Regions from separate parts of the Homo sapiens genome. Here region 1 is linked to region 2. The links come from fine-mapping of genetic effects on gene expression. Tissue or cell type: ileum. Region 2 holds a variant in brackets; the other region holds the start of a gene. All regions are shown on one strand. Distances are between the middles of the regions.

Region 1 (2,682 bases), 380 kb after region 2:
AGCCGAGATCGCGCCACTGCACTCCAGCCTGGGCGACAGAGCGAGACTCCGTCTCAAAAAAAAAAAAAAAAAAAAAAAAAAGCAAAAATTAGCCAGGTGTGCACACCACGTCCAGCTAATTTTTTTTCAACCATTTAAAAGTGTAAAAACAGCTGGCCAGGCACGGTGGCTCACGCCTGTAATCCCCAACACTTTGGGAGGCCGGGGCAGGTGGATCACCTGAGGTCAGGAGTTCAAGACCAGCCTAGCTAACATGGCGAGACCCTGTGCACTAAAAAGACAAAAATTAGCAGGGCATGGTGGTGGGCGCCTGTAATTCCAGCTACTCGGGAGGCTGAGGCAGGAGAATGGCTTGAACCCGGGAGGCAGAGGCTCGTGCCATTGCACTCCAGCCTGGGCAACAAGAGCAAAACTCCGTCTCAAAAAAAAAAAAAAAAAAAAAAAGTGTAAAAACAGCTGAGCGTGGCGGTAGCTAGGTGTGGTGCGTCTGTAGTCCCAGCTACTTGGGAGGCTGAGGTAGGAAGATTGCTTGAGCCCAGGAGTGCCAAGCCAGCCTGAGCAACATAGTGAGACCTTGTCTCTACCAAAAAAAAAAAAAAAAAAAAAAAAAATTAGCTGGACATGGTGATGCTCGCCTGTGGTCCCAGCTACTTGTGGGGGGGTGGGGAGAGGCTGAGTGGGAGGATCCCTTGAGCTTGGGAGGTTGAGGCTGTAGTGAGCCGCGATCGCGCACCGCTGCGCTCTAGCCTGGGTGACAGAGTGAGACCCCGTCTCAAAATTAATTAATTAATTAAAACAACAAACAACAAAACCCCAGCTGTGTGGGCTCTGGGCTGGGCCGCCTCCCCGGCGGAGGGGGCTCCCTCTCAGGCAGACCGCCAGCCGCTGGGTCCGGGGACTGCCGGATCCGGAGGTGCGGGGACCCCTGCGCACCTGGCGGCTCCCGGGATGCCCCCCTGAGGCAGGCGGGAGGGCAGCACGGAGACGCCCCTCCGGGCAGAGCCCGCCCCAGCCACTCCCCTCTCCAACTCGACCTGCCTCAGCAAGTCCTGAGTGTCGCAAAAGCGCTAGGGTTGCAAGTGGCACCAGAGACGTGCCCTTGTCCCGGGGTCCATTTGAGGGTGAGCGTGTTGGTGCCGAGCTGTTTTTTTGTTTTGTTTTGTTTTGTTTTGTTTTTGAGACCGAATCTCGTTCTGTCGCCCAGGCTGGAATGCAGTGGTGTGATCTTGGCTCACTGCAACCTCCACCTTCCGGGTTCAAGTGAATCTCCTGCCTCAGCCTCCTGAGTAGCTGGGATTACTGGCACCCACCACCACGACCAGCTAATTTTTGTATTTTTAGTAGAGACGGGTTTTCACCATGTTGGCCAGGATGGTCTCAATCTCCTGACCTCAGGCGATCTGCCTTCCTCAGCTTCCCAAAGTGCTGGGATTACAGGTGTGAGCCACCGCACCCGGCCAGTGCTGAGCTGTTTTGACAACTTGGACCCCGGGTCCTCTGTGGGTAGGAAAATCAGCTCCCTCTTTGCTCCTCTGGGGCAGCTGCACCTCGGGCCAGCTTTCTGCCTGTCTGCCTGCCGGCACTGCTGGGTCGCTGTACCCAAACGCACAGCCGGTGCCCCGTGGTAAGTCCTGGCTCCCCACCTTCCCCGCCCGCCCCCGGCCACCTCTCCCTCCAGTTGCCCTGGTCTTAGCAGTCTGACCGACTTGTCTTCTGACTCCGGTTCTGTCCCACCAGCCTATTACCTGCCAGCCTGTCTGTTTCCCTCCAGCTAGAAGGTCTTCAGTTTCCAGAAGAACCAAAGCATCTTTGGACCTACCTAGGGAAGGACCTGCCTGTGACCTTTGCCCTGTCCTGGAGGGTCCAGCTTTGGGCTGAATGGCAGCACCCACGCTGGGCCGTCTGGTGCTGACCCACCTGCTGGTGGCCCTTTTTGGCATGGGCTCCTGGGCTGCTGTGAACGGGATCTGGGTGGAGCTGCCTGTGGTGGTAAAAGACCTTCCAGAGGGTGAGTGGGAGGGAGGTACAGGGAAGCGTGGGGCAGGTATGCCCAGAAAGGTGGCCTGTGGCAGCTCTTTGTCCCTTAGCCACTGTGCTCCTGACATGGCATCATTCCTTCCCTGCAGGTTGGAGCCTCCCCTCATACCTCTCTGTGGTTGTGGCGCTGGGAAACCTGGGTCTGCTGGTGGTGACCCTGTGGAGGCAGCTGGCCCCGGGCAAGGGCGAGCAGGTCCCCATCCAGGTGGTACAGGTGCTGAGTGTAGTGGGCACAGCCCTGCTGGCCCCTCTGTGGCACCACGTGGCCCCAGTGGCAGGGCAGCTCCACTCTGTGGCCTTCCTAACTCTGGCCTTGGTGTTGGCAATGGCCTGTTGTACCTCTAATGTCACTTTCCTGCCCTTCCTGAGCCACCTGCCACCTCCTTTCTTACGGTCTTTCTTCCTGGGTCAGGGTCTCAGTGCCCTACTCCCCTGTGTGCTGGCCCTAGTGCAAGGTGTGGGCCGCCTCGAGTGCCCACCAGCGCCCACCAATGGCACCTCTGGGCCTCCCCTCGACTTCCCTGAGCGTTTTCCTGCCAGCACCTTCTTCTGGGCACTGACTGCCCTTCTGGTCACTTCAGCTGCCGCCTTCCGGGGTCTCCTGTTGCTGTTGCCATCACTACCCTCTGTAACCACAGGGGGCTC
Region 2 (2,682 bases):
TACTCTTAAAACATTAAAACACTCCTCGTGGTCTGCAGACTGGCTTCTGTGTTATCAATGTTCATAGTATATGTGTAATTGATTGTACTTTATTCTGCCTGAAGTACCACGTTGCTGTCTCATTTGAGGCTAGGCCATTCTTTCGATTAGGTAGAAGTAAGATTTTGTAAAACCAGTTATCTGTCAGCCAGAAGTTTGCCAGAAGTGTAAGTATTTTATGTGTGTGTGTGTGTGTGTATGTGTGTATATATATATATACTTTTTTTTTTTTTTTTTTTTTTGAGATGGAGTCTTGCTCTGTCACCCAGGCTGGAGTGCAGTGGCACAATCTCGGCTCACTGCAAGCTCCGCCTCCTGGATTCAAGCGATTCTTCTGCCTCAGCCTCCCGAGTAACTGGGATTACAGGCAAGCGCTACCATGCCCAGCTAATTTTTGTATTTTTAGTAGAGACGGGGTTTCACCATGTTGACCAAGCTGGTCTTGAACTCCTGACCTCAAGTGATCCACCCACCTTAGCCTCCCAAAGTGCCGGGGTTATAGGTGTGAGCCACCGCACCTGGCCTATTTTTATATAATTTCTTTTTCAACAAATCCAGAAAAGTGAATCTGAAAGATCTACTGAAAAGAGTACAGATGCTTTTCAACTTACGATTGGGTTATGTCCCGATAAACCCAGTGTAAGTTGAAAATGGATTTATTGCTGACAACACAGCAGAGGATCCCCGATTTAGGATGGTTCAACGTAGGATTTTTCAACATTATGATGGGTAACCCCATCATAAGTCGTAAGGAGCTCCTCAGTTTATGTTGGCTTATGTACTGGTAAACCCATTGTAAAGTTGGGGATCATCTGTATAAGGTAGAAACTGCTTTTAGCTCCGCAACTTATAAGTTGAGTCCCCTTAAACTGTTTACCTTCTAAATCTGTTTCCTCATTTTAAAAATAGGATTGATAATATCTGCCCTTGTAATTTCCTTACAGGGTTAGTAAAAAGATCAAATGAGATACTATATCTGAAAACACTTGTACTGTATAAATATGTATCAATCCTAAGTCAAACCATCCTAAAATGTATATATACGTATGAAATATGCTATAATTTGGAGCCAGGCACGATGGCTCACACCTGTAATCCCAGCACTTTGGGAGGCCGAGGCAGGTGGATCACCTGAGCTCAGGAGCTTGAGACCACCCTGGGCAACATGGTGAAACCTCATTTCTACTAAAATACAAAAAATAAGTGGGGTGTGGTGGCACACGCCTGTAGTCCCAGCTACTCAGGAGGTTAAGGCACAAGTATTGATTAAATCCAGGAGGCGGAGGTTGCAGTGAGCAAAGATCACGCCACTGCACTCCAGCTTGGGCCACAGAGTGAGACTTCATCTCAAATAAATAAACAAATAAAATTTAAATAAATAATTTAAATTATTAAAATAAATAAATTATTTATTTATTTTGAGACAGAGTCTGGCTCTGTAGCCCAAGCTGGAGTGCAGTGGCGTGATCTCAGCTCACTGCAACCTCCTCAGCCCGGGCTGGAGTGCAGTGGCACAAGCTCAGCTCACTGCAGCCTCCACCTCCTGGGTTCCAGCGATTCTTCTGCCTCAGCCTCACGGGTAAC[G/AGG]GGTTACAGGCATGTGCCACCACACTTGCCTAATTCTTGTATTTTTAGTGGAGACGGGGTTTTACCATGTTGGCCAGGCTGGTCTCAAACTCCTGACCTCAGGTGATCCACCTGCCTTGGCCTCCCAAAGTGCTAAGATAGGCGTGAGCCATTGCGCCCAGCCAGTGTGCTATAATTTAGAAGATATTTTTATTTCAATTCTTTGATATTGATTGAATAGATGCCTTGAATGTCCTCTCAGCATGATTTCAGGGAAATAAATCTGAAGGAAAGAGAATCAAAGAGTGTTAAAATAGAAATTTCTTCAGGGCCTGGCGTGGTGGCTCATGCCTGTAATCCCAGCACTTTGCGAGGCCGAGGTGGGCAGATCACCTGAGGTCGGGAGTTTGAGACCAGCCTGACCAACATGGAGAAACCCCCTCTCTACTGAAAATACAAAGTTCGCTGGGCGAGGTGGCAGGTGCCTGTAATCCCAGCTACTTGAAAGACTGAGGCAGGAGAATCACTTGAACCTGGGAGGCGGAGGTTGCAGTGAGCCGAGATTGTGCCGTTACACTCCAGCCTGGGCAACAAGAGAGAAACTCCATCTGCAAAAAAAAGAAGTTCCTTTAGAAGATTTTCATCCAAGTTGTACAAAATGTTTTGGAAAATTATTATCTTTATTTTAGTACCACTCCAGTTGCGGAGAGATTTTTCACCAGTTCCACCTCTCTGACTCTAAAGCATGCTGCATGGTATCCAAGTGAAATCCTGGATCCCCACGTAGTGCTGTTAACATCAGACAACGTAATCAGGTAAATTTTATTTCTCTCTCTTGAAGCCTTGCGAGTGGGAAAGCTCTGTTTCTGTTTGCCAATTAACAGCTCAACATAGAACGAAGTGAGTCATTGAATGAGTCAGTGCTTTTATTGGATGGCTGTTGTAACCCATTCTCAATCATAAGAATTGCCTAACTGCTCTAACTTACCACTATTCCTTCTCAACTAGTCTTCCTGCCTCCAGGTATCTCCTCTCCTAATCTGACACCTTAGAATAATCTTTCCAAAACTCTTTCATCAT

Evidence for each region. PIP is the estimated chance that this variant, and not a neighbour inherited with it, causes the effect.
Region 1: SLC52A1 starts here. The variant in region 2 is fine-mapped to the expression of SLC52A1 in ileum (GTEx, PIP 0.98).

The regions. Positions count from the first base shown.
Region 1 is chr17:5,033,803-5,036,484 of GRCh38, reverse strand. It overlaps SLC52A1 (solute carrier family 52 member 1), which reads left to right and starts at 1,059. Exons shown (of 5, transcript NM_017986.4): 1 at 1,059-1,624; 2 at 1,772-2,008; 3 at 2,127-2,682. The coding sequence starts at 1,879. All of the region lies in intron 3 of LOC105371501 (a long non-coding RNA gene), which reads right to left.
Region 2 is chr17:5,413,744-5,416,425 of GRCh38, reverse strand. It overlaps NUP88 (nucleoporin 88), which reads left to right. Exons shown (of 17, transcript NM_002532.6): 3 at 2,292-2,417. Among named protein-coding and RNA genes, the nearest start is that of NUP88, 4.6 kb to the left of the region's middle. RefSeq lists an enhancer at 1,923-2,682. The variant G/AGG (reference allele first, on the strand shown) is at 1,624.